4 separate regions of the Homo sapiens genome follow, and regions 1, 2 and 3 are each reported to be linked to region 4. Evidence: microRNA targets listed by miRTarBase, many of them from high-throughput screens and not tested one by one. Region 4 holds a microRNA gene; each other region holds the end of a gene's coding sequence.
The links. The annotated mature microRNA hsa-miR-3116 reads UGCCUGGAACAUAGUAGGGACU and lies in region 4 at 5,234-5,255, shown strand. An mRNA with a match to its seed (bases 2 to 7 or 8) in the 3' UTR can be bound and repressed. Matches are read on the target gene's strand: a 7mer-m8 pairs with bases 2 to 8, a 7mer-A1 pairs with bases 2 to 7 and ends in A, and an 8mer does both.

Region 1: the mRNA of GNL3 is a reported target of hsa-miR-3116. Seed matches in the 3' UTR shown: 7mer-A1 at 6,620-6,626.
Region 2: miRTarBase lists UTP6 as a target of hsa-miR-3116. Seed matches in the 3' UTR shown: 7mer-A1 at 1,910-1,916, 7mer-m8 at 2,509-2,515 and 7mer-m8 at 3,570-3,576.
Region 3: miRTarBase lists DGCR6L as a target of hsa-miR-3116. Seed matches in the 3' UTR shown: 7mer-A1 at 1,417-1,423.

The regions. Positions count from the first base shown.
Region 1 is chr3:52,693,909-52,701,022 of GRCh38, reverse strand. It overlaps GNL3 (G protein nucleolar 3), which reads right to left. Exons shown (of 15, transcript NM_014366.5): 14 at 6,920-6,986; 15 at 6,526-6,830. The coding sequence ends at 6,748. GLT8D1 (glycosyltransferase 8 domain containing 1) reads left to right here. Exons shown (of 10, transcript NM_018446.4): 2 at 527-578; 3 at 663-761; 4 at 3,089-3,302; 5 at 4,364-4,481; 6 at 4,705-4,789; 7 at 4,983-5,095; 8 at 5,436-5,602; 9 at 5,721-5,833; 10 at 5,988-6,537. The coding sequence starts at 563. The coding sequence ends at 6,178. Among named protein-coding and RNA genes, the nearest start is that of SNORD69, 4.7 kb to the right of the region's middle.
Region 2 is chr17:31,857,663-31,864,780 of GRCh38, reverse strand. It overlaps UTP6 (UTP6 small subunit processome component), which reads left to right. Exons shown (of 19, transcript NM_018428.3): 19 at 1,265-3,877. The coding sequence ends at 1,422. COPRS (coordinator of PRMT5 and differentiation stimulator) reads left to right here and starts at 5,537. Exons shown (of 4, transcript NM_018405.4): 1 at 5,537-5,680. The coding sequence starts at 5,582. RefSeq lists a silencer at 5,387-5,816 and an enhancer at 5,876-6,550.
Region 3 is chr22:20,308,768-20,315,885 of GRCh38, reverse strand. DGCR6L (DiGeorge syndrome critical region gene 6 like) reads left to right here. Exons shown (of 5, transcript NM_033257.4): 4 at 410-550; 5 at 1,062-1,648. The coding sequence ends at 1,211. It also overlaps the pseudogene PRODHLP. Among named protein-coding and RNA genes, the nearest start is that of DGCR6L, 7.7 kb to the left of the region's middle. RefSeq lists enhancers at 1,359-1,912, 1,913-2,468.
Region 4 is chr1:62,076,931-62,084,048 of GRCh38, reverse strand. It overlaps MIR3116-2 (microRNA 3116-2), which reads left to right and starts at 5,193; the gene lies at 5,193-5,260. PATJ (PATJ crumbs cell polarity complex component) reads right to left here. Exons shown (of 44, transcript NM_001350145.3): 32 at 4,482-4,599. MIR3116-1 (microRNA 3116-1) reads right to left here and starts at 5,263; the gene lies at 5,190-5,263.

The DNA of each region.
Region 1 (7,114 bases), not on the chromosome of region 4:
CATGATCTCGGCTCACTGCAACCTCTGTTGCCCAGGTTCAAGCGATTCTCCTGCCTCAGCCTCCTGAGCAGCTGGGATTACAGGCCCCTGCCACTGCACCTGGCTAATTTTTTTGCAGTTTTTAGTAGAGACGAGGTTTCACCATCTTGGCCAGGCTGGTCTTGAACTCCTGACCTCATGATCCACCCCACTCGGCCTCCCAAAGTGCTGGGATTATAGGCCAGACCCTGCCTGGCTGAAACTTAATTCTTAAATGTTTCTTTTGCTTTTCATCTTGTGATGTATAATGTACAAGGCTAAGGCTGTTTCTCCAACTTATTTTTAAGTTTTTTATTAATGAGTACCACAAAAATTTCAGATCCCAAATTGGGTTCTTGGGAACTGTGAATTCAAAATGAGTTTCTGGCGGAATACTGTATATGCCTCTTGTTTCTTCCTGAATTAAAAAAAAAAAAAAAGTGTTAGGGCATTTTGATGTCCCTTCTCATGTGCTTACTGACTTTGGGGGCTTGTTTTTGTTTTGTAGGGTTAAAAACTAATATTTATATGACAGAAGAAAAAGATGTCATTCCGTAAAGGTATGCTCTTTCTACAAGTTAAGTTGTTTTTATACCTGGTCAAAGATAAAGAGGTATAACATAGGTTTTCCCTATCTATTTCAGTAAACATCATCATCTTGGTCCTGGCTGTTGCTCTCTTCTTACTGGTTTTGCACCATAACTTCCTCAGCTTGAGCAGTTTGTTAAGGAATGAGGTTACAGGTATGCGAGCACTTATTAATAATGCCTTAGAATCTGTTGCGGACCTGGTATTCTCTGTGTCACACATCCTAAGTTGTTCTTCTTCCGGTAGTACTAGCAGTTGTTTGTTAAGGGTTTGATCTGACAGAATATTCCTTTTCACCAAATCAGAGGCCTTAGGAGAGCCTCTGAGGGCTGCCATCTGTTCACATGTCAGCAGGACAGGGCTTCAGAAAGTGAGGGCATACCAGTGTCCTTGGTGTTTGATGCCTGCTCTAGTCACTAGAGTGTCAGTCTAGTTACTTTCCTTCAGCTGTGCAGCTGCATCAGTGGGACTGTAGCAATAAAAGTTTGTCAAGTGATTTTTAAAAATCACTGTGTTGTATAATATATCGCACAGTATATTGAATTAGTCGTTCATACTGTTCTCCCTTGGTACTGAGAAATGTTTGAGGCTTGAGTGTTTGTCAAAAATCATTTTTGGATTGCCACCCACCATAGCTGACCAGAGTGAGAGACTGTAATAGCTTTCCCCTGACTTTCACGGAGTGCTCTGATAGCATGTTTTATCACGTGTATATATGTATGATACATATAAAGTAATGCATGTTCCTGGTAGGAAAGTTTATAAAAAAGAGAACAGCGGCCGGGAGCAGTGGCTCATGCCTGTAATCCCAAAACTTTGGTAGGCCAAGGTGGGCGTCTCACAAGGTCAGAGATCGAGACCATCTCAGCACTTTGGGAGGCTGAGGTGGGCAGATCACGAGGTCAGGAGTACAAGACCAGCCTGGCCAACATGGTGAAACCCCGTCTCTACTAAAAATACAAAAATTAGCTGGGCGTGGTGGTATGCGCCTGTAGTCCCAGCTACTCGGGAGGCTGAGGCAGGAGAATCGCTTGAACCCAGGAGGCGGAGGTTGCAGTGAGCCAAGATCACGCCACTGCACTCCAGCCTGGTGACAGAGTGAGTCTTCGTCTCAAGAAAAAAAAAAAGAGACAACAGTATTTAAGCTCCATGAAGGCAATTTGTGTACTGTTTTATCTTCTGTGCCTATGGATGATGGCTGATACTAGCTGTTCAATAAATATTAGTTGGTTGAATGATTTCATTTACAATTTTGGCTTAGTACCTTCCAGTTTTTTCCTACACATCTTTTTTTCTGTACAGTTGAGATTGTACTATATATAAACTGTACATGACATGTTTTTCTGTATATCATGTCACTGTGATGGTAGAAACTCTTCATACATAATCTTAATGTCTATTAATTTGTTTCCACAGGATAACATCTTTTGCTACAACAGCTTTCAGACTTTTTGATGGCAGCCCTACAATAGGAAATACATTACATGTAGCACATGTACATACATGTGTATTTGCTTATTGGCTGTCTATCCTCAGAAAGTTAGGGATGTTTTATTCATGGCTGTAACCCCAGTGCCTAGATATTGCCTGGCACATAGTAAATACCAGGGTTCAATGAGGAATAAAAAAAAAAAAATGAAAGGCAAGAATGCATACAGGACAGTAATTGCAGTTTCCTTGTGTGATACACTATGTTTTCTTTGGTATTCTAATTCAGTTTTCTTTTTTTTTTTTTGAGATGGAGTTTTCCTATTGCTGCCCAGGCTGGAGTGCAGTGGTACAGTCTTGGCTCACTGCAACCTCCACCTCCCGAGTTCAAGCGATTCTCCTGCCTCAGTCTCCCAAGTAGCTGGGATTACAGGTGTTCACCACTACACCTGGCTCATTTTGTATTTTTAGTAGAGATGAGGTTTCACCATGTTGGTCAGGCTGGTCTCAAATTCCTGACCTCAAGTGATCCACCCGCCTCAGCCTCCCAAAGTGCTGGGATTACAGGCGTGACCTACCATGCCCGGCCTCTATTTCAGTTTTCTATTGCAATCCAGAAACTTTTTCTGTATAAATTGATTGTGACTCACTCAATTGGTTTCATGCCTACTTGTGATTCGTGACTTGAAAAACATTGATTTAGTTTGCTGCTAAGTTTTCACAATTTAAATAAAATTCTTTCTTTTGATTATATTTCAGATTTTGTCCTTAGGAAACTCTTGATACAAATTGCCATAATACATTCTAACAGGTTCTGTTATTTTCCTACCAGTAGTGTACCAAAGTGCTGTCAGTGTATTTTAAAAAATGCTTCCTCCACTTTTCCAAAAGCTTATTTACATACAGGGAAAGTTTCAGGGCTATATGCTTCAGTTTAATGGGGGAGAATGAGGTAGATCAGTACCATAATCCTTACCTTCCCTTTTTCCATGTCTTGGACTCTATATCAAAAGCCCATGAGATTGTAATCACAGTGCCTTCCTTGTGTTTTCAGATTCAGGAATTGTAGGGCCTCAACCTATAGACTTTGTCCCAAATGCTCTCCGACATGCAGTAGATGGGAGACAAGAGGAGATTCCTGTGGTCATCGCTGCATCTGAAGACAGGCTTGGGGGGGCCATTGCAGCTATAAACAGCATTCAGCACAACACTCGCTCCAATGTGATTTTCTACATTGTTACTCTCAACAATACAGCAGACCATCTCCGGTGAGCTCTGCTTATGTGATTCTGCTTCTAGAGGATGATTTAGAGCAGGCCAGCTGCCAATCCAGGATCTGTTTTTCTGTGGTTTGTATGTTGTTTTATACAATTGAAATTGTACCAGTGATAAACTGTACAAATGACATATTTTTTTTAGGACTGTATTATGAGCATATCCCCATAATAGGAGAAGTGATACAAGGAGCTCATGCCAGGAAGTAAGTCAGCTGTCACTCTGAACTGTTAACCCCACCTGATGGTGTTTTGATAATAATACTTTCTCAGTGAAGGGAGCAGTAAATGTTGATTTACAAGTCACAAGTTCCTTATTTCATGGACATGCTCGGAGCAGTTCTGGTCTAGAGTGGGAAGGGACTTAGCAACAATGGCAAGGTAGTGTTGTGATGCTGATCACAGATCCTGATCCAAATCCTGGCCCAGAGTGATCTGGGGAAACTTGGATAGTCTAATCCATTTTGAAAATGAATAAGACTTATAAAACTTACTCCAAATTTGTTGGTCTAACAAATTAACCAGTTGTCAAATTTCTGAAACATTTTGGTCCTTGTGGCCCTCTGCATGGTTCATATTTAGTTTTTAAAGCTGTAAATTCTGAACGCATTTAAAATACAGAAACAGAAGCTGTATAAAAATAGACTACAGAAATAACACTAAGTAGCCACAAAACACTGATTTGAAACTGACCTAGAAAAAATGTGCAGTACTCCTTTAGCAAACAGTTTTTTCTTACAGGTAGTGCCTCAGACTTGAGTGGTGGAATTAGGGTCACCACAGTTAAGAGTTGGATAGTCCAGGTGGTGATGAAATGTTCTTAATTCTATAGTTTTTCTAGAGTAGTTTTAGTGTTAGAAGATAATTACCATACAATCTTAATTCAGGGAGGGACTTTGGTGGGAATTACCCTCACTTCAGACGAGGAAACCAAAGCTCAGAGATAAAAGGAGCTTGAAAACACCTATTTGGTCCATAGGGTTTCTTTTGCATTATTCCCTCATTGGTTTGGAGACATTATTTGAAACTAAAATGTAGTGTTTTATCTTCATCAGGTCCTGGCTCAACAGTGATTCCCTGAAAAGCATCAGATACAAAATTGTCAATTTTGACCCTAAACTTTTGGAAGGAAAAGTAAAGGAGGATCCTGACCAGGGGGAATCCATGAAACCTGTGAGTTCCATGCATCCTTCTTTGCACTTGGCAGTATTAGGAAATAATGGAATACCTGGGTATCTGTGGGTATAGTGCAAGTAGTTTCCTGGGGACCAAGCCTGGGTGGTTCTAAGAGTCCTTTCTTCTCCTGAATGGGTACTGAAAGCATCCTAGGAGTTTCTGTGTAAATAAAAGCACAGCTAGTGCGGTATCCTATGCCAATTATTCTTTCCTTTTCCAGTTAACCTTTGCAAGGTTCTACTTGCCAATTCTGGTTCCCAGCGCAAAGAAGGCCATATACATGGATGATGATGTAATTGTGCAAGGTATCAAAAATGTCACCATGAGTGCTGTTCTCCACCCAGATTGGGTACAATTGCTAAATAAAACAATGGGCTACAGTGGGCTGTAGTGGTTTATTTATGGTCTTCTATAAAAGGTCACCATAGGGAGAAGTGGGAGTAACAGGGAACTCTCAAGGCAACGGAAATGTAAATCTTAACATCTTGTCTATTTCAGGTGATATTCTTGCCCTTTACAATACAGCACTGAAGCCAGGACATGCAGCTGCATTTTCAGAAGATTGTGATTCAGCCTCTACTAAAGTTGTCATCCGTGGAGCAGGAAACCAGGTAAATTGCTTACCAAACACCCCTCTTCCTACAATATTGTTTAATGGGAAGAGGTTGCAAATTCAGGGAACTCTTTTGCTGCAATTTACACTCCCCAATCATTTCATCCCAAAACTCAAGCCTGCTTTTCTGTAGACTTCTTCATGGACTTGACAGCCTAATTGTTCTTGAACATCTGGTTTATTATGTCAACATCTAGGTTCCTATTCTAACTTGGAATTTCAAATATTTATTTTCTAATCTGAAGAAGTCAGTTTAACAGCTCTTCTCTCTACTGGCTATAAAATTGTATCTATTTTGTTTGAAGCAGTAAGTACATATATCCTATTTGTGTTTTTAGTACAATTACATTGGCTATCTTGACTATAAAAAGGAAAGAATTCGTAAGCTTTCCATGAAAGCCAGCACTTGCTCATTTAATCCTGGAGTTTTTGTTGCAAACCTGACGGAATGGAAACGACAGAATATAACTAACCAACTGGAAAAATGGATGAAACTCAATGTAGAGTAAGTATGTAACTGGCCTAGCTGTGAAAAACTGTTGTATTTCAATTCCTAGAGTCTTGACTAACAGGAGTTAGTCAGTACTTTTCACTAACAAACATTTGTTTTCTGTCCCACCAAGAGAGGGACTGTATAGCAGAACCCTGGCTGGTAGCATCACAACACCTCCTCTGCTTATCGTATTTTATCAACAGCACTCTACCATCGATCCTATGTGGAATGTCCGCCACCTTGGTAAGTAGAATTAACCAGTGGCATAAGCTAGTAAAGAATTGGTATCTAAAGAACTATCCTCAGGGATGGGGTATATTCTTTGTTTCCCTTAAGTAAGTTTTCTGCACAATTTCACATGGCGCAACGATGTGGCTATTTTTGTCTCAAATGTAAGGTTCCAGTGCTGGAAAACGATATTCACCTCAGTTTGTAAAGGCTGCCAAGTTACTCCATTGGAATGGACATTTGAAGCCATGGGGAAGGACTGCTTCATATACTGATGTTTGGGAAAAATGGTATATTCCAGACCCAACAGGCAAATTCAACCTAATCCGAAGATATACCGAGATCTCAAACATAAAGTGAAACAGAATTTGAACTGTAAGCAAGCATTTCTCAGGAAGTCCTGGAAGATAGCATGCGTGGGAAGTAACAGTTGCTAGGCTTCAATGCCTATCGGTAGCAAGCCATGGAAAAAGATGTGTCAGCTAGGTAAAGATGACAAACTGCCCTGTCTGGCAGTCAGCTTCCCAGACAGACTATAGACTATAAATATGTCTCCATCTGCCTTACCAAGTGTTTTCTTACTACAATGCTGAATGACTGGAAAGAAGAACTGATATGGCTAGTTCAGCTAGCTGGTACAGATAATTCAAAACTGCTGTTGGTTTTAATTTTGTAACCTGTGGCCTGATCTGTAAATAAAACTTACATTTTTCAATAGGTATCTTCTTTTTTTATTCCAGATAACTACTTCCACTCACAATGAGATGAATTGTCTTTTTACAGAATTTAGGGATTCCAAGTTGCCTGGTTTTAATATAATACATATTCACAAAATTTACACAGCTCATGCATACCATAACTTATACAGAGAACAGTTTAGCAGTCTGCTTAAAATGTTAAAAAAAAAATCATAAAAAGCCATTGTTCTGTTACACATAATCTGTACTGAAGTCATAAGCATCATCCTCTTCAATGATTTTATCCAAGATAAAAGACCTTGTAGACTGTTCACCTATATTGCAGGAAAATAAAGAGATTTTCAAAAAGTAAAAGTGATTCTATACCATGCTGCTTCGTTAGAACCCCTTTTGCCTGCCTCACCTGCTGTAGTCTCCTCAGACAGTGCCTCCCCTGTCTCTTCTGCAGCAAACATGCCTGAGCTGTTTTCCTGTGTGACAAAGAAAAATAGTGCTGGATTAGTAGCCCTTGTCTGCTCATTTAATCCAAGTAGTTATGTACCTGAAAAATTAACTCTTTGGAGGTACATATAACGGGATGTGCAAAATTAAGGCTAAT
Region 2 (7,118 bases), not on the chromosome of region 4:
TATGGTGGTGCATGCTTGTGGTCCCAGCTACACAGCAGGCTGAGGTGCGAGGATTGTTTGGGCCCCAGGATGTTGAGGCTGCAATGACTGTGATGCCACCATTGTACTCCAGCCTGGGCAATACAATGAGATCCTGTCTCAAAAACAAAAACCAAAAACACCCCCTCTGGATTAGAGAAAGATTTGCATGGTTTTGTTTTCTTAAAAAAAATGTATTTAGAGTTACATGAAAGGGGTAAACGTGAGATGCTAATTGGCGTCTGTTGTTGACTATCTCCACATTGCCCTCATTTGTAGGACTTGTACAACATACTTCTGGGTATAGGTATGTCATGTAAAATCTGTGGACTTTGTGAACTCATAAACATTGATTTGTTTATTTTTATTTTGTTTTGAGACAGAGTCTCACTCTGTCACCCAGGCTGGAGTGCAGTGGCGCAATCTTGCCTCACTGCAATCTCTGCCTCCCAGATTCAAGCGATTCTCGTGCCTCAGCCTCCCAAGTAGCTGGGAGTACAGGCACGCGTGCCACCATGCTCGGCTAATTTTTGTATTTTCAGTCGAGATGGAGTTTCGCCATGCTGGCTAGGCTGGTCTTGAACTCTTGACCTCAGGTGATCCGCCCGCCTTGGCCTCCCAAAGTGCCGGGATTACAGGTGTGAACCACTGTGCCTAGCCAAAAAGTTTAGTATTTTTGAGTTCATTGAATAAAATAGACTTTTATGATTGATGTGAAGGTTTTCTACTGGGAAAAAAAACAAAAAACAAAAAAACAAAACTGATGAGGCACAGTGGCTCACGCCTGTAATCCCAGCACTTTGGAAGGCCAAGGTAGAAGGATTGCTTGAGCCCAGGAGTTCAAGACTAGCCTGGGCAATATAGTGAAACCCTGTTTCTACAAAAAATAAAAAAATTAGCCTAATATGGTGGTGTGCCTGTGTTCCCAGCTGCCCTGGAGGCTGAGGCAGGAGGGTCACTTGAACTCAGGAGGTTGAGACTGTAGTAAGCCATGTTCCCGCTACTACACTCTAGCCGGGGCAACACAGTGAGACCCTGTCTCAAAAAAGAAAAAAACACACAAAAACAAACCAAAACCTGCCACTATACTTTAAAGAAGCTAAGAGAGGTATTGTTAAACAAAGCGTCCTAGGGAAGTAACAATGAGAAGTTAAGTTTCTTAGAAATCTTGAGTTGAATTGATATTTAATAAGGTTACCTAATAACACTCTGTCAGTTATCTAATTGTATGTTTTTTTTTTAAAAGATCTTTGGATGGATTATATGAAAGAAGAATTGAACCACCCCCTTGGTAGACCTGAGAACTGTGGACAGATCTACTGGCGAGCGATGAAAATGTTGCAGGGAGAGTCAGCAGAGGCATTTGTAGCTAAACATGCTATGCATCAGACTGGCCATTTATGAAGATGAAGAATACAGTCAGCTTTGTGAAATAGTATTGCAAGCAAGCCCCGTGGGCAAATTTGTATTGAGTCCATCTGTAATTTGCTCAGTGATGGCAGACAAGATGGCTGTCTGGTTTTGAGACACACTTTAATTTTATGTTAACTTGTTAAATCTTTTTAAAAATTAAAAAATTTTTATGATTGAGACTGGGTCTTGCTCTGTTGCCCTGGCTGGTCTTGAACTCCTGGACTCAAGTGACCTTCTCACCTCAGACTCCTGAGTAGCTGGGATTATAGGTGCATGACACTGCTCAGTTTGATGTGCTAATCTGATTCCAGTAAAGAGAATTGCTGATTTAATGTTGAGGCCCGATCTTCCACAGGTCCTAAATGTTTCCCAAAATACATGGATAGCATACGACTGGGTTTTTTTAAAATTATCCCAGGTCAAGCATGAGTATCTCTAATCTCGACCTAAGAGCCAGTTAAAATGAAGGAGAAAGTGGCCAGGCATGGTGACTCAACGCCTGTAATCCCAGCACTTTGGGAAGGCTGAGGCAGGCGGATCACCTGAGGTCAGGAGTTTGAGACTAGCCTGGCCAACATGGTGAAACCCCGTCTCTACTAAAAATACAAAAATTAGCCAGGTGTGGTGGTGGGTGCCTGTAATCCCAGCTGCTTGGGAGGCTGAGGCAGGAGAATTGCTTGAACCTGGGAGACGGAGGTTGCAGTGAGCCGAGATCATGCCATTGCTACTCCATCCTGGGTAAGAAGAGCGAAACTCCTTCTCAAGGAAAAAAAAAAAGGAGAAAGTACAGTTTTGTTGGTTTATTCTCATTATAAAAGATACGTGGTATGCATTTGTTCTGGAAAATATGGAGGAAATAGAATAGTGTGGTAAAAAAAAGCATCCTGTCACTGGGAGAAGCTTTCAGTGTAGCTTATTGTTACGTTTCACTTAGTATTGTTTTTCTGTGTCATTAAATAGCCTTAAAAACATTTAATGAATTCGTAACATTACATTGTAAAAATGAGCCATAATATATTTTACTAATCCTCTGGTTAGACTGTCTTTTTTTTTTTGAGATGGAGCCTTGCTCTGTCATCCAGGCTGGAGTGCAGTGGCTCCATCTCGGCTCACTGCAACCTCCACCTCCCGGGTTCAAGTGGTTCTGGCTCAGCCTCCCGAGCAGCTGGGTGGGATTACAGGCACCCGCCACCGCGCCCAGCCAATTTTTGTATTTTTAGTAGTGCGGGGGTTTCATCATATTGGCCAGGCTGGTTGCGAACTCCTGACCTCATGATCCACCCGCCTTGGCCTCCCAAAGTGTTGGGATTACAGGCGTGAACCACTAAGCCTGGCCTGGACTGTCATTTCTAATTTTTTTAAAAATTAGATAAATGCTGTTGATGAAGATTCTTGTCAATCTTTGTTCACATCCCTGGCCATTTCCTTAGGAGATTGACATCCGACAGTGGAATTACTGGATCAAAGGATACTGCTTTTAGAGAATACTGATATGTATTGCTGGTTTGCTCCTTCTTTCAAGCAATACATGAAAGTGTCAGTACCCTTACCTGTACTGGTGTAATTATATCTTTTATTTTTACCATTTTATAGGTGAAATGTGATATGTCATTGTTTTACCATACTTTGATATTAGTGAAGTTAGTGTATTTTATGTTTCTCATCTTTTTACATCCTTAGACTATTTAAAAATTTTTTTTCTTACTAATTTATGAGTTAATTTTTTTTTTTAAATTGGACAAGTTCTTGCTTTGTCACCTAGGCTAGAGTGCAGTGGTGTGATCATGGCTCACTACAGCCTTAACTTCTGGGCTCAAGAGATCCTCCCACCTCAGCCTCTTGAGTAGCTGGGACTGCAGGTGCACACCACCATGCCTGGTTAATTTAAATTTTTTTTTGTAGAGACTGGTCTTGCTATGTTGCCAGGGCTGGTCTCTTAAACAGTTGGGCTCAAACAATCCTCCTACCTCAACCTCCCAAAGTGCTGGTATTATAGGCATGAGCCATTGTGCCTGGCCAGAGTTTTTAAAAACATATTCAGAATATTAATATCTTGTTTCTCATTTGTTGCAAATAATTTTACCCCCAGCCTTGTTTGTGGTGATTTTTTTTTTTTGAGACAGAGTCTTGCTCTGTGGTCCAGGCTGGAGTGCAGTGGTGTGGTCTTACTGCAACCTCTGCCTCCTAGGTTCAAACAGTTCTCCCTGCCAAAGCCTCCCAAGTAGCTGGGATTATAGGCACCTTTTGTGGCGATTTTTGATGCCCAGAGGTATTTTGTGTGTGTATGTGTGATGTCTGTTTTTAAAATGCTTTGGAAGCTCTTCCTGGTGCTGAGAACAACTCTTTTTCCCCAAGCAGTTAATTTTGCCAACACTATTTGGGCAGTTATGTTTCTCTCTGCTGATTTGTGATGTTACCTTTATTATATATTAAATTTCTATGAGTATTAGAGTCTACTTTAGAACATTTTTATTTTAAGCTTTTGTACTGTTTTCTTTTTCTTTCTGGTTTTTTTTTTTTTTAGACCAAGTCTCACTCTGTCGCCCAGGCTGGAGTGCTGTGGGGCAATCTCTGCTCACTGCACCCTCCACCTCCCGGGCTCAAGTGATTCTCCTGCCTCAGCCTCCCGAGTAGCTGGGATTATGGGTGTGTGCCACCACGCCTGGCTAATTTTTGTATTTTTAGTAGAGATGGGGTTTCACCATGTTGGCCAGGATAGCCTTGAACTGACCTCAAGTGATCTGCCTGCCTCGGCCTCCCAAAGTGCTGGAATTACAGGAGTGAGCCACCGCGGCCAGCCCCTGTTTTCTTGTCATTTGTTTTAAAATAAGAAAAAAATTCCTCTTTTTCCTGTCCCTTAAGTCCTGGGATGTTTAACATTCTTAATCTTATTTGGCACTTTAATTTTACGAAAGAGATATGTAGATTAGGGAGCAAAGAGGATAGTGGTAGTCTCCTTAACACAAGGCTATAAGGGTGGTCACCTGGGGTCATCACATCCCTGTATCTGATTCTCAATATTGCAGGTTATGAAAACACATCTAGCTAGTACACCTAGAGTTGCACTGTTAGAAACAGTAGCTCCAAGGCACATGTAGCAATTTAAATTTATTAGAATTATTCAATTTATTCACATTGGCCACATTTCAAGTGCTCAGTAGGTATATGGTTACTATATTGGACAGTACAGATAGTAGAACTTTCATTTCCACTTCCACCATTAAAGAACGTTCTATTGGACATTGCTGACCTAGAGGCAGTTAGCCTTGGGGATACTGACTCCTGTGTAGGAACATCTACATATAGAACAAAAATAATATCGAATATTGTGTGTCAGTTTTATGCTAAATTTTTTCAAATGCCTTTTGTGTTGTACAAACAACACAGTCTTTGAGGGGGATGAAGGAAGAGGGTCTCATGTCCTGATGTTGACGTGATTAGCACACCTTGAGCTGGTTTGTTATTAGAGGTTAGGCACTGTGGGGAAGGCAGGGAAGGCTGTCTTTCCAGTTGGGCTGTTCCCAGCTCAGGCCCTGCCTATCCCCAGAAGCCACCTTTCGAGGCAAAATGGGAAATAATTAGGTTGTCGGTATCAGGCGTTGAGCATGGAAATACAGGAATCCCGAATGTTCAGGATTATTATGAGTAAGCGTCGTGGCCTGTATTCTGTGTCCACTGCATATTGCAGTTTGTGTCTTAATCATCTATCTTGGTTTCTAATGGATTAACTTCAAAGACGATCATTAGCTCAAGGTGGAGGTCACTGGGTTGCTCATGTGTCTTACCCACGCGGGGTTTTGAAGCTGGAGCACACCCCGAGTGGCCGAGTAGGGTACGCTTGGCGTTTCACACGCAGCTAGTCGTGCAGCCTTAGGATATGCACCGAGAGGAGTTTCCAAAATCCGTCTCCGAGATTGTTTCAGATTTCGCGCTGGGAGGGAGGGGCGGGCTCCGCGAGGCCGCGCGCCCCGCCCCCTGCGCCGCCCCGCCCCCGCTTGCTCGTGACACCCCCGCGCCCCGCCCTCTTGGCCGGTACCCACCCCCTCCCCAGGCTGATTGGCGCTTCTGCGGCGGATCCTCGGGCGGGCAGCCGGGCCGGCGCGTCACGTGGCCCACGGCGTCCAGGGCGACCAGCCGCGGGCCGCAGGGCATGGACCTTCAGGCCGCCGGGGCCCAGGCGCAGGGGGCCGCGGAGCCGTCTCGGGGCCCGCCGCTGCCTAGCGCGCGGGGGGCGCCCCCCAGCCCGGAGGTGAGCGCCGCGTGGGGGCCAGGAGCAACAGCCAGCCGCAGCCTGGGGCGGGAAGTCGCGGGGCCGGGCTGGGCGGGGGCCGCGGGGCCGGGGAAGCGCCTCTGGCCGGCCTCGGGCCGCCCCGCGACACGGAGCGCTGTTTGGGCTCGCGCTCGAGCTGAAAACGGCCAGGCCGCGGGGCCGCGGGGCTGCGGGGCGGGGAAAGCCGAGGGCGTGGGTGGGCGCTCTGGGTCAGCAGAGACGGCTGTCCGCCCGCTGGGCGCCGCTGCGGATTTGGTAAATGGGAGGTGACGCTGGTGACCGAGAGCCGGGGCCCGCTGCCAGGAGCCTGGGCGAGGGCCAGGTGAGGGCGGCGAGGAGAGGGACTTGACTTTACAGACCTGTGGACCTCTGTCCGTTGGTGGGGATGCCAGCTAACCCTGAGCCCCAGATGTCACATGCGCGCTCCCCCTTCTCCTTACTGAAACCAGAAAGGCCCTGTTTGACGCAGGGTTTCCAGAAACTTGTTTTCATGTAAGCTAGACAGCTCCTGGTTTTCCCGAGAACGTTACAGACCGTTATTACAGTTCTTACCTGTCCTTGTTTACAGTCTGTACCGGCTAGGTGCTGAGCGGCTTGAAGGTAGGAACCCTCTGTTAGGGCTGTTTGCACAGCCTAGCATAGTGCCTGGCACAGGAGATAGACATACCGACTGGATGAATGATGCCTCAAAGATGGTACTTAGCCAAAGTAAGATATGAAAAATGCAGCGACACTTACAAAGAAAATTACTTTGGAGTGCAGAATAGAATGGGACTAATTTTGTCAGGGCATAGCAGGAAAGGATCAAGGTGAGAGGCTGGTGGTGTCTGCAGAGGCGTGGAGATGAGAAAGTGCAGGGCACATGGCCTGGAGTTGGGTCTCAGAGCATGCAGAGAACTATGCTCAACAGGTTGATGGGAGTGGGAGAAGAGGGGACGTGCGAATGCCATGGCTAATTTTGTGCTCTCTCAGTGGAGGGCTGTTGAAGGTTTTGAGCAGAGTAGTGATTAATTCTGTAAGGCTGGGCCAGATGGCTGGATGGGAAGGTGGTTAGGAGGCCGTGGCAGTGGTTTAGGTGAGAGGTCTGACTTCTCCTTGGGCGGCAGTGACCAGAGGTTGTCACTAACTACAGGGAGTGGAACTGAATTATTAAACCCAGACATGACTAGATAATGAATGCTGATTGGAGCAGGTGCCGAGTACAGTTTAGATGTAGCAGAAAAGATGAATTTAAATTCAAGAAATGTTACATTCTTGCCACATGCCAGGTGTTTTCATAAATGGTGTCTAATCATAAGTCCCCTGCAGGGTCAGAACAGTCACCCCTAATTTCTGGAGAAGAAAACTCAGGCACAGTAATTGAAGTGATGTGTTCAAGGTCACACTCTGAATGGATGGCAGAGCTGGGATCAAAATC
Region 3 (7,118 bases), not on the chromosome of region 4:
CTCCTCGTGGGTTTGGGCCTCCACAGAGCAGGTGGCCTCAGGGGGGTACAAAGGCAATGGTAGGGTGTTGGGGCCAGGAAGGGGCCCATCCTTCTCCCAGGGAGCACAGGGACAACCAGAGACTGGCATGTAACCAACAAGCCGTGGGGCAGGGTGTGCCTGTGGAGATGTGTGTGTGGTCCTAAGGCAGTCCCAAGCCAGGGCATTCGTGGAAGCCCCTTGGGGCCCCCTTCAGGGGTTCACATGGCCGAGGAGAGGCCTGGGTGTGGTGAGGATGCACCGGTGGTGTCAGAGCTGCTGCCACTGGGGACGGCAGCAGGAGCATGTGTTTGAGCTGCCCTCACCTCCCCGCCCCCTGATGGCAGAGCTGCCCTCACCTCTCCCCCTCCGCGCCCTGGCCCCATGGCAGGCCGTGGAACACCGGATCCGTGAGGAGCAGCGGGCGATGGACCAGAAGATCATCCTGGAGCTGGACCGGAAGGTGGCTGACCAGCAGAGCACACTGGAGAAGGCGGGGGTGGCTGGCTTCTACGTGACCACCAACCCACAGGTCAGTGCCTGGGCCTGCTCTGCCCTAGCCCGAGTGCCCCGGGGCCCCATTCCATCTGGGGTTTTACTGCTGGTCCCTGGGGAGCCAGGCTCAGGGTATGGGGGTGAAGTGGAAGGATTGAGGCTCTGGAAAGGATTTCTGTGCCATTCCCAGCACGGAGGCCAGGCCCATTCCCTACAGGAGGGTGAGCCAGCCAGCCATGGGCACTGCCCACCCTCTCCAGGCCTGCTGTGCCACACAGGGCCCTCTTCTGCTCCCCTCCCGCATGCCATTCCGAGTGGCCCTGCTGGGGGCAGAGGCTCAGATTCCGAGTGGCCCTGCTGGGGGCAGAGGCTCAGATTCCGAGTGGCCCTGTTGGGGGCAGAAGCTCAGATTCCACCCTGTCCTGGCAGGCCATGACCAGGCTTCACAGGATGGTCGCCCCCGTGGGCTCACTGCCTGGCACCCTTGGGCCGGGATGAAAGGGGCCTGGGGGTCACTCTGGCCTTCATGGGGCCCCTCTGTATCCCAGGAGCTGATGCTGCAGATGAACCTGCTGGAACTCATCCGAAAGCTGCAGCAGAGGGGCTGCCGGGCAGGGAATGCAGCCCTGGGACTGGGAGGTCCCTGGCAGTCGCCTGCTGCCCAGTGTGACCAGAAAGGCAGCCCTGTCCCACCATAGCCACAGGCAGCAGAAGTCTGGGCAGAGTTCATCTTCTTGACCTTTGGCCACTGCCTTCCCAGCTGCCCGCAGGGGGTTCCCCCTGCTGAGGAGAGACCAGGTGGACCCCAGCTGCCTGTCACCCTTCATCTGGGACTTGCTGTCAAACCCTAGGATAGTCTCATAAAGGGGAGGCTGGGCCAGCCTGCTGCTGTCTGCTTCAGGACCAGGCAGAGAGTGAGGCTGGGGGTTCTCACACCTTACTCCACCGGGCACATCCCAACCTGCACTGGGGCCCACCCGAGCGCTTGTTCTGGTCTCAGCCGCTCCCTTGGCAGCTGCAGCCCCCATGCAGAAGAGGCTCCCAGGCCCAAGCTCTGTGTGACCCAGAGAAATAAAGATGCCTCAGTGTGGCCCAAATGTGGCTTGTGTGATAGCTGCAGGTTCTGCCATAACCGGGGCCCTGGTAGGGCCCCCACCTCTGTTGCAGCAGAGGCCTCTACCTGGGGGCCCCTTCCTGGGCTGTGTGCCCAGCCCACCACCCCTCCCCCTGCCTGGAGACTGGGACCCTCCAGCCTTTCCTGCCCCAGCCCTGGTCCCAGGATGCTGTCACTGCCATCTGTACAGGGGCCCCCATCCAAGCCCCAGGGCATGAGGACCACATCCAGCCTGCTTTGTGGGGCTGGGGGCTGGAGAGCATGGGAGAAGGCCCGGAGTGCAAGTATGCGCCTGCCGCAGCCTGGTCAGTGTCCTGTGGGAACCACTAGGAGGAGCCTGATGCAGGTCACTGGGATAGAGGACTCAGGGTGGCAGGAATGGCCTGAGGAGGAGCCCTGCGGGGAGGCATGCCAGGGCCACCTGGGGAGCTTGGCTTCTGCATCTGCATGAGTCCCCTCCGTGCTGGCCTGGGCCCATGGGCCCTGCTGGGTCCTTGTGGAGTCAGGGTTGGGGGTGTCCAGCACCCTGGGTGGCCAGGTCTGCGCAGGGCCTGGCCTCCAGGAACAGATGATGCTGGAAGCCAGAGTTTGGGATGAGACTTCTCTGACCCTGTCTGAGCCACTCCCTCTTTGTTGCCCAGAGCTGACCCTGTGTGAGGGCAAAGGGCTCTCAGCTGCAGGAACAGTGGTTTATTGACCAGGCAGGCCTCCCCAGCCCGGCCACTGCTCCCCGAGGGGCTCGGGCTATGTGGGCTGGCCTTGGGAGAAGGTGGACAATCCTCTAGGTCCAAGGACATGGGGGTCACAGAGGTGGGGGCCTTGGGCCCACACATCCGAGGAAAGTTCCTAACAGTTACCAGCGGCTATCCCAGGCAGGTATCAGGGTCAGCCCACACCTGAGTGCCCCCACCATTGGCAGGGCTGGGAGGCACCTGACTCCACCTCCAGCAGCTCTGCAAGTGTGGGGTGAAAAAAGGTGAATCTGTGTGAGGATGGGGTTGGCTGCAGCTGTGGTGATGGCCTGGGCGGGGGCGGGGGGGTGCTAGGTGGGGCAATGGAAGAGGTTGCCAGTTCGGAGCCACCTCAAGAGCTCCAGCCACAGCAGCTGCCGCTCCCGACGGGCACCCTTCACGAGGCTGCTGTTCTCCAGGGCGTGGCAGGACACGTATGACAGCACCTACAGCCCTATACTTGTACACAGGGTAGCCAGCCTGGCCTGCATGGGGGCAGATAATGCCATGAGGCCCAGGCCCAGCACCACACTCCATCGCACCAGGGAGGGCCCCATTCACCCAGCGGGAAGCTGATCTGGTCACACATGCCTAGCAGCTGTCCAAAGTACAGTAGGATGCAAGCGCAGCTCCTCCATCCTGTGCAGGTAAAGCCAGGAGCTGAGGGCTAATTCCAGGACACTGTCCCCGGTGCAGGGGTACAGGGCCCCTGTCCCAGCTCTGACCCTGTCCTGCCACCCCAGGTCCCCCATCTACACTCTCCAGACTTTATCCCCTTTGAAGTGGGGTTGGGATATAGGCTCTGTCCGGCCCTCTCCCAGTGAGGCCTCTTCCCAGCAGGACTCTGCTGGGCTGCCCTACTCTTCTCCCTGGGGAGGCCTCAGCCCTTAGCCAACAAGGCCCCCCTCCTGCCTTCCCTACCCTCCTCTCTCCCACCTCTCCTCTACCTCCCTTCTTGGAGGTGCAGCCCTTCTGGGGCTTTGACCCACCCAGCAGCCTGCCCCACAGGGCAGAGAAGCTCCTCAGCTCTCCTGCCATCCCTTCCTCAAGCCCCTCCAGGGTTCTGTGGTATGACTGGTCTCCGGCCCCTGCCCTCGCCCTCTGTGGGCTGCTGCTCTGCCCCATCCCCACAGCTGCTGTGTCCCACACAGCTGCCACCAGCCCCCGAGTCCTCGGAAGGCGGCTGCTCTGAATCGAGATGTGTTGCAAATGTCAAATACACACGGGATTTAGGAGACTTTCTAGAAAAATGCACGATGCCGCATTGCTTTTCTAAAATCAACTTGAATACAATTTGAAGTAATATTTTGTATATTTTGGGTTAATTAAAATGTATTCTTGAAATTCATTTTATCTTTTAACGTAGCTACCAAAAAACTTTAAATTACAGATGTGGCTTGCATTATACATCTATTAGCACTGCTCAGATACTGGGGTGGGGCCTCCACTCTGTCCTGTCTTCACACCACCCCGTATAGGGTCTTACAAAGATTCTCAGGGTTTGAAATATCCACGCAGTGACAGTTCTCAAGTTTCATCTCCAGCTTACTATATCCAGGTATCCCGACTTCGCTGGTCTGCACAGCACTGGGTCCCCCAGCCTGGGGCGAGTTCCGCCTGCTGCTCACGCATCACCCGGGTGACTGGCAGTGCCTGTGCTGTGCTTCCCACTCCCTCCCCGAGGGCCTCACCTCCCCTGTTCTCCATCTGCCCCAGCCCTGGCTCCCAGAGTACCCATCGGCCAGAGGCCCTTTCCCTCCATCCCTGGGCTGGGCTCCAGTGTCGGGACCACCCAGTCTAAAGCAGGCACCCATCTCTGCCACATCGCCCTGGCTTCCATCTTGTGTCTTCCTCAACCCCAGGACATGAACCCGAGAGCCGGGTGCCACTGCTGGCTGCCCCCTCCCCTGCTGGTGTGCACAGCCTCTGCCATGTGACTGCGGCTCCTCCCAGCACAGGACAGTGGCTCACTCCACCTGGCATCTGGGCTTGGCCTCGTGAGGCACTTTGGCCAACAGGGAGGTACCAAAGGTGACACAAGCAGAGGCTTGCCCTCTCCAGGCCTTCTGGAAGCCTGAGCCCACCACGTGCCCAAGCCTGGGCTGGCCTGTGGGACGCTGGACCCAGGATGTAGTCTCCTTTACTACACCAGCCATGAATGAGCTCATTAGGCCCCACCGGCCCCAGATCACAGACGCAGGAGGGACACAGGCACAGCCAGCAGCAGAAGCATCAGCTGAGCCAGCCCACCCCTGGCCTACAGAACATGCCACTGTTCCAGCCTCTAAGTTTGGGGCTGGTTTGTTCCTTGGCCAAAGCCAACTCGGGTTGTTTGAGGGTGGGTGGTGTGGCAGTCTGGGCCCAGCACAGGACAGAGCAGCTGCCATAGTCTAGAACCACTTACCCATGGGAGGGGACCCCAGCTCCCCAGAGCTCCCCAGCCACCCACAGCAGGGGCAGAGCTGAAGCCTGCAGGGGTCCAGCCTCTCAGGCAGGGATGTGAGCATGGTACTGGGGGAGCCCGGCACAGGGCCCTTGGGGCCAAGAGGAGAGAGCCCGGCTGCCACTCGGGAGGGGGAAGCTGTGTCCACTGGGGAAGCCACTGCCACAGCAAGATAGTAGGGACAGACAGGTGCCGGGGCTAAGCTGGAGAGAGGAAGCCCTGCTGAGGGCGGGCTGTCCTTTCGGAGTTGGATGGTGATGTGTCTAGTCAGGCTGTGAGTCCACCAGCATTGAGAGTCCACCCAGAGGCTGGGAGTCCTGATTACAAGCTGAGAGGAACCCCCACCAGCTCCCGAGTGCTGGGCAGTGCTGGCCACCAGGCCTGTGCGTGTGGAGAAAGTGAGTCTGTCCCATCACCGACACATCTATGACAATTAGCAGAGGATCAGGGCACAAAAATGGGTGTGCTGCAATTTCAGGCCATGAAAAAGTAGCAGCATCGTAAACAAAGGCTGAATGTGGACATCACTGAATGATTTCAGAGCCGTGAGTCAGCTCCCGAGCAGCACCAGGATGTGTCCTGTTGGCTGCAGCCCTGGCCCCAAGCCTGGCCCTGTGGCTTCACAGCTTCTTGGGGAGCCCCTTCGTGCCACAAGTCATGGATCTGGGGCACCCTGCCCTGCTGAGAGTGGAGCTCCTGCTCAGCTCCTAGGAAGGCGAGAGCCAGCGAGGCCACTGCCCAGGCCTCCGAGGGTTCTAGGGGGTCCCATCCCTGGGAAGGCGGAATCTGGGAGGGGAGGGGGACCTAGGACCCCATTGTGTGCATAGCTTGGGCTAAGGCATGAGATAAGACCAGGGTGACAGTACAGGAGTATCCAAGAACTGACTTCACCTAACTTCTGCATTTGACTTGTTAGAATTCTACCGAAGTTGTGCTCCATGGGACAAATGTTTAAAGAGAAAACAAACCGTTACATTCCAGATGTAGTTAAAATGTTAAGGGAACTGCTTATAAATGAGGCAGCGCTGTGGAGGCCTCCTGAGGGACTGGGCTCCAACACTACATTTGTACCTTTCAGGAGCCATCCGAATACCCTGATGAAATTTAGTTTTTTAATTGTGAAGTTTAATAAGTCAAATGTTAATTTTTAAAAGGCTGGGTACAGTGGCTGATGCTTGTAATCCCAGCACTTTGGGAGGCCAAGAAGGGAGGATCACTTGAGGCCAGGAGTTTGAGACCAGCCTGGCCAACATGGTGAAACCCTGTCTCTGCTAAAAATACAAAACATTAGCCAGGCGTGGTGGCACATGCCTGTAATCCCAGCTACTTGGGAGGCTGAGGCATGAAGAATTGCTTGAACTTGGGAAGCGGAGGTTGCAGTGAGCTGAGACCACGCCACTGCACTCCAGCATAGGTGACAGCGAGATTCTATCTAAAAAAAAAAGTTAATTTTAAAAACCAACGTAACTGCAAAGAGCCATTGTGCTCTCACAGTCCGATGTCCAGAATGCCAGCGGGCCTGGGCCTGCCCACTGAAGCCACCCTCCAGCTCATTTCACCAGCCTTTCCCCACAAATGCCCGACCACCCAGCAGGTCACTCTGCCCACCCTGAGCTCTGCACTGCTGCCACCTCTCCCCAGCTGGAGGAGACAACGGCTCAGGTTGGGGTTTCGGTGCAGGGTGGGGCACACCTACCTGCGCAGTGCGAAGCGCACTGTGTCCTCATTGTGGGAGGCCACCATCACCTTGGCCTTGGCGTTGTGCTTCAGCTCCTCCAGCACGTAGTCCAGGCACCTGTGAAGAGTGCCATGTGAGCCCAGTTCCAGGCCTGTGGTCGCCTGCACCTCTCATTACCAGCTGCACAGAGAGGAGGCCGAAGGCAGACCCAGATCCATCCAGTGAGCTGGCTCTTTCCAAGGGTATCCACAGGATCAGGAGGAACAGGAGCAGCATCTGCCCCTCCCAGCACCTCATGAAAAAGAAAGACCAGCAACCAAGCAAAAGCGATGTCTGGGACCAGACAATTCACACAGAACCAGCTGGGGCACAGCGTCCCTGCATCAAACATGCCGTGACTCTGGGGACCAGCCCAAACATGCCCATAAGCCTCATGACAGACACAGCTTTGCGTCTGGGGAGGGATCGTACAGTGCACCCCTGGCCCTGAAAGGAAATAAAAGGGAAGCAGGTCCCTGTAGGGCACAGTGGGGGTGGGCATCCCGGTGCACCAGGAAGCCCGAGCAGTACGGCCCTCCTGCAGCGAGGACACTCAGCAGGCTTGACCACGCGCACGTTCTCTCTGACCCAGCAATTCCA
Region 4 (7,118 bases):
CTCCTGGCCTCAGGTGATCCGCCCGCCTTGGCCTCCCAAAGTGCTAGGACTATAGGTGTGAGCCACTGCACCTGGCTAAAAGTTTTAAAATCTTAAAATACATCATGAAAATCTGTATGGAAAAATTACAATGATTAAATGATTAGGTATATGAAGGCCTATGTTACAATGAGAATAAAGGCTGGTATAACAGGAGATTCTGAGCTATAGGATACTAATTAAGAAACAATGCCTAAATACTTTCAATTAGAGCATATCAGATGAATTAAATTATTAAGATGTATAAAGAATTTAATCAATAAAGTATGAAATACCTGAAAATAACAATTACCTAAAATTTATCCCCAAATATATTACATATATAGTAAAGCAAAATATATTATAAACACAAGACTCAAAAATTACTTGCGGGGTTCATAGAGGAAAAGTTTATTTAAAAGTTATTGCTTTTTTACAAAGGTTTATTTTTAAAAACAATTGTTTTAGGTTGGGTTTTTCCAAAGAGTGAGGGAAAAAATGTTTATAGGCTAAGAAAAAATGTTTACTAACACCTGTTTATCCAGCATAAAATCTACACACATGCATTTTCCAGATAACCTATTAAAAACTCAAAACATTCAGCCGGGCACGGTGGTTCACGCCTGTAATCCCAGCACTTTGTGAGGCTGATCACCTGAGGTGGGAGGATCACCTGAGGTCAGGAGTTCGAGACCAGCCTGGTCAACATAGTGAAACCTCGTCTCTACTAAAAATATAAAAAATAGCTGGGCGTGGTTCATGCCTGTAATCCCAGCTACTCAGGAGACTAAGGCAGGAGAATCGCTTGAGCCCGAGGCAGAGGTTGCAGTGAGCTGAGATCGCGCCATTGCACTCTAGCCTGGCCAAGAAGAGTGAAACTCCGTCTCAAAATGGCAACAACAACAACGAAACCTCAAAACATTCAAAATGTTGAATAGTTTCAAGAGATGCTCATATAAAATGTTGAATAGCTTCAAGAGATGCTCATACAAATCATAGTCTCCAGAGAATGTCATATTTTCTGATAACTGAGTTTGATCACCATGAGTATTGTTTCTTACATTATGATATAATTCAGGAAAGGGCTGATGAGAGAGGGCTCCATCTGCTGGTCAGCTGCAGCTAATGCACAGAGCTGAGATGAGATCCCAGTGCTCATTAAACCTATGTAAAAGCAGGGGTCAGCGGACTATAGCTCGCGGATCAAGAATGGCTTTTCACTTTCAAAAGCTTGAAAAAAAATCAAAAGAAAAATAATGTCTCAAAGCATGTGAAAATGATATGAGTCTAAATCTCAGTGTCTATAAATAAAGTCGTATTGGAACACAAACCCACTAATTCATTTATGCCTAGCCTATGGCTGCTAGCATACTACAATGGCAGGGGTGAGTAACTGCAATAGCGGTTGTGTGGCCCATAAGCCTAAAATATTTACAATCTACTTCTTTATAGAAAAAGCTTGTCAATCTCTGGTATAAAACAAAAAGAAACAGGCTCTAGGTAAGCCTGTGGGGGTTCTGCTCTAACTAAGTGATAATCATGGTCTTTGAGATGAAAAGGCACAGGTTTTGGAGTGGCACAGAGCCACAGTTGAGTTCCTAAGCAGGAATTTAACAGGAGGGTGAAAGTGGAGCTCACTTCTCATCAGAAAAATGCATGTAACCACTATTAAAGAGGCTGTTAGAGAAACTAAATGAACAGTGTGTGTGAGGTGCCCGGCCCAGAGTCTGGCACATTGTGGGTATTCACATATCTTGTTCCCATCCATATGGAATTTATTAATCTAAAGGCCTCCTGGTTAACAGCAAGAAATTCAGTGATACAACCATAAAAAGTGCCATATTTAGAAGTAGCCTATGGCCAGCCTATGGTGGCTAGCACACTACAATGGCAGGGGTGAGAAACTACAACAGAGGCTGTGTGGACCACAGCCTAAAATATTTACTATCGACTTCTTTATAGAAAAATCTTGCCAATAAGACAAAAAGAAAGGCTCTAGGTAAGATACAGGCAAGGCAGAATATTAAATTGTAAACCAAATTTGTCTTTAAATCTTTTTGCAGCATATGTATTTTATACCACATTTCCCATTAATTTACAATAAAAATGACGTACGATAGTGGCACACTTTCATGGGTGCTTTAAAAAGTTTCTATTGCTTTTAGGTCGGGTGCGGTGGCTCACGCCTGTAACCTCAGCACTTTGGGAGGCTGAGGTGGGCGGATCACCTGAGTTCAGGAGTTTGATACCAGCCTGACCAACATGGTGAAACCCTGTCTCTACTAAAAATACAAAATTAGCCAGGCATGGTGGCACATGCCTGTAATCCCAACTACTAGGAAGGCTAAGGCAGGAGAATCACTTGAACCCAGGAGGCAGAGGTTGCAGTGAGCCGAGATCACACCATTGCACTCCAGCCTGGGCAACAAGAGCAAAACTCCATCTCAAATAAATAAATAGATAAGTAAATAAAAAGTTTATACTGCCTTTGTAAATGACTAGCGTAGTCTCCTGAGTGAGAAGAGAGAAAAAAACCTGGTGAGACATCCTGGAGATGGCATTTCTTTTCCCTCCTCCACGTTTGCCTCACCCTAGCCAGTCCTGAGTCAATCTTTTTATTTACTTCTCTCATGGAATCCAGCCCCAAACCCAGCTCATACCAAGTCCTCAATAAATGCTTGGTAAGTAGATGAGTAAATGAATAAAATTTCTATAGATTCAACTGTAGGATGATGAACTTCATTTATTTATTTATTTGTTTATTTATTATTTAACCATGAGAATGAAAACCAGGAAGGATGCTGAATTTCTGTCATCTAAGTATAAATATGTGATATATATTACCAAAACTCAACTTGTCTACCTCCATAGTCAGCATGCATTGTTGGTAAAGTGCCAAGTATACATATTTTAATAGGGCATTACAGGCCAGACTGTCTCTGTTGTGACTACTTAACTCCATCATTATAGTGTGAAAAAAGCCACTGACAATACAGAAACAAATGAGTGTCTATAAACCTGTATTTGTGGACACTGAAATATGAATTTCATAGAATATTTTAATAAAATTTTCTTAGGTGTTTTTTCAACCTTTAAAAAGTGAACACCTTTTTTAGCTTGTAGACCATACACAACTAGCTGGTAGGCCAGATTTGACCCATGCGCCATAGTTTTCTGACCACATGCATCAAATGTTTTAGTACATCTACAATGCTTTAAAATAGTACCTGCTTGATGAACTTTATGAAGTTAATATTTATGAAAAAATATATAAAAGGCAAATACCACAAAGATTTCAGAACTGCTAAATTAATGCAGGGTTATGCTTTGCCATTGGTGAGTACTGTCTTTTAAAGAGTTTTATTTTTTACTGATGTATACTGCACAAAAGCAAAGTAGGGCTGGGCACAGTGGCTCACGTCTGTAATCCCAGCACTTTTGGAGGCCGAGGCAGGCAGATCACTTGAGGTCAAGAGTTTGAGACCAGCCTGGCCAACATGGTGAAACCCCATCTCTACTAAAAATGTAAAAATTAGCCGGGCATGGTGGTGAGCACCTGTAATCCCAGCTACTCAGGAGGCCGAGGCAGGAGAATCACTTGAACCCAGGAGGCAGAGGTTGCAGTGAGCTGAGATCAGCCCCCTGCCCTCCAGCCTGGGTGACAGAATGAGACTCTGTCTCAAAAAAAAAGAAAAAAAAGCAAGTAGAAATACCTATTATTCTTTATAAAGTTCTATTTTCAACCCCCAGTCAGCATAATTCAAGCCAGGAATTTAAAGACAGAATGTGCATGCCAATTTCTTTAAGCATTGAAAATCAACATTCTTCAAACAGCTTAAAGCAACATTTGCAGGGCTAAAAATTGGGTTTGATAGGATTTTTAAAGAGATATTACTCAAGACCTAAATATAATCTTTTGTAGAGATTAGAGAAGAATAATACAGAAGCCTCAGATTCAAATAACATTTACTGAGGTCCTTTTCTTTTCCTTTTTTTTTTTTTTGAGACAGAGTCTCACTCTGTCACCCAGGCTGGAGTGCAGTGGTGCAATCTCAGCTTACTGCAACTTCTGCCTCCTGGGTTCAGGCGATTCTCCTGCCTCAGCCTCCCGAGTAGCTGGGATTACAGGCATGCGCCACCATGCCTGGCTAATTTTTCGTATTTTTAGTAGAGACAGGGTTTCACCATGTTGGCCAGGCTGGTCTTGAACTCCTGACCTACTGAGGTCCTGTTCTGTTCTAGTGCTCTTATATTCAAAAAGCAACAGGCAATGGCGATGGCAGAGAGGAGGAAAAATGATGTAGGAAATGAAGTGACCTATCCAAGCCCCAAAGCTAAGGAAGCGGAGGAAGTATCCAGAGTCAGACTTCTGCCTCCTGGTCCAGTTCTCGTTTTAGGACATTATGATCCCTTGCCTTCTCTAAGGCTTAATGAGCCAGATCTGCTGAGAGAAAGAATCATACCATAGCCTGTGAAGTCTGCATCTGTTGAATGGTATGATGAAGCTGGTGCTAATGGTATCTCTTGTGAACTGAAGGAGACTTTTGTTGGATATTTTTGCTGTTTCATCTGGCTGACAGCCTACAAAAGAAAGGAAAATTAGATGAATATCAAAAAGGAGAAAGGTAACAAGAAAATACTTTAAAACTGGTGTATTGTTACCAAAACAATGGTGCAGTCCAATGATGTCTTTTGAGAATATAAGGTTGGAGGGTGGCAAGAAGTTAGGATGATTTATGCCTCGTTCCTCATTCTTCCCTATTTAACTTTACAACTAAAATGCTTTGATGAAGGGCAGATCAAGGAAGGGAGGAAAGATAAAAGCTGAAGATACTCTGTCAGTGTGATCTGTACATGAAGCTGGGGGTGGGAGGCAAAACAAAAATTATCTTGCAATTTCTACTCATTCTGATGAAATCAGCAAGAAGCCCCTTTATCTATGGACTTTGAAGTGACTTATCTGTGTTGTGCACATTGAAAAACAATCTACGCTGGGGATGTTTAGAGCATCAACACTGTCCATTTCTTCTGGACACACTAGAGTCAAAGATGCATTTGGTAGGTTAATTAAGCAAAATGAGGGGCAGACAAAGAAAACCAACACCTACTGAAAGCCTACTAAATGCCAGCTACATCAGTGACATTTAATTCACATAAAGGAAGCATAGCTCCTTTATTGAGTCCCTACTATGTTCCAGGCACCTACGATACCCAGTGCCTGGAACATAGTAGGGACTCAATAAAGTGCTTGATGAATGAATGAACAAGAAAGAAAGAACAAAGAAAAGCAAAACTGAAGACATGAGTAACTCAGGGTAGAAAGTGAACTTGCAATTCAGTGAAGGTACAGGGACCTCTACTGTGTGAGTTTGGGAAAAATTAACTTGTAATTCTGGATTTTTGCTGACAGTACCTCCAATGAATATTAATATTAAAAAACTAAGGGGCCAGGCATGGTGGCTCACGCCTGTAAACCCAGCACTTTGGGAGGCTGAGATGGGCAGATCACCTGACATCAGGAGTTCGAGACCAGCCTGGCTAACATGGTGAAACCCCATCTCTACTGAAAAAAATACAAAAATTAGCCAGGCGTGGTGATGCATGCCTGTAATCCCAGCTACTTGGGAGGCTGAGGCAGGAGAATTGCTTGAACCCAGGAGGCAGAGGTTGCAGTGAGCTGAGACCGTGCCATTGCACTCCAGCCTGGGCAACAAGAATGAAACTCCGTCTCCAAAAATAAATACATACATACATACATACACTAAGAAAAACCAAAAGGACTCCTTGCTTATTTAACAGGCAGTTAAGAAATATAGGTAGTAACCTGACCTGCCTTCTGGATCTGCAGTTGGCCAGGGAACCCATCCCCAGCTGGAAGAGTCTGGTAGTGAAGCACCAGGTTGCCCCTGGAGTCTAGAAATAGGACCAAGGTAACTGCTCCAGAACTGTAACACCTCAAGATTCTGTCAGTGGAAAGCTGTGCCTCAATACAGGGCATTGTGCAGTGTGCAGTAACAACAAAACAATACCATCCATTGTGCATATGCACTGTGCTTTCTAGTTTTCAAAACACTTTTACATCCATAAATTCATTCAATCACATGAACAACCCCGACAGTTAAATATTACTTTTTTTCTTTTTGCAGAAAACCAAGCATAAATGTCAAGTGACATATTTGAAATCACACTGCTAATTAGAGAAAGAGGTAGAACCGGAAGTCAATAGTTGAAGAATGCTACAAGCTTAAAGTGTTTATCAAACAGCTGATAGGCAATGATTCTATGGAGTTTTTTTGTTTTTTCCTGCAGTTTTTCTATCACCATCTTCTTTTTTTTTTTTTTTTGGACAGGGTCTCACTCTGTCACCTAGGCTGTAATAGTTGTGTGATCTCGGCTCACTGAAGCCTTGATGTCCTGGGCTCAGGTGATTCTCCCACCTCAGCCTCCTGAATACCTGGGATTACAGGCGCACACCACCACGCCTGGCTAATTTTTTGTATTTTTAGTAAAGATGGAGTTTTGCTATGTTGCCCAGGCTGGTCTCGAACTCCTGGACTCAAGCAATCCACCCACCTCAGCATCTCAGAGTGCTGGGATTACAGGCATGAGCCACTGTGCCCCGCCACTATCAGCATCATTTAATATTGACTAAAAAGAGACTTTTTCAATTACATATTTATCAGTGATTTTTAAAGGAAGAAAGTAGAAAAGGACAAATAAGGGGTTACTATAAGAAAACAACATTGAGAGGACTTAGATATCCAATTATTCTAAGGACCACATTTACTAGCCTCATTGAAGGTAGGTGTGCCAACAGGCTAAGTCCTGGTCAATGGGATGTAAACAGAAGTGAATGTACAATTTTTAGGTCATTCTCCTAAGGAGAAAGATCCTGTCTTTCCCTTCTCACTGCTTGGAATACAGATGTGTTGGTAATAACTGAAGCAGCCCTCTTAAACTAAAGAATGGATGCCACCATTTGAGGGTGGTAGAGTAATCAAATAAGAATGGTATAGTAATCAGATAAGAGGTGCTTGGGTCTCTGACACTTTGGAGACACCATATCATTCCCCAACTGACCACACACAGCCACACACAGA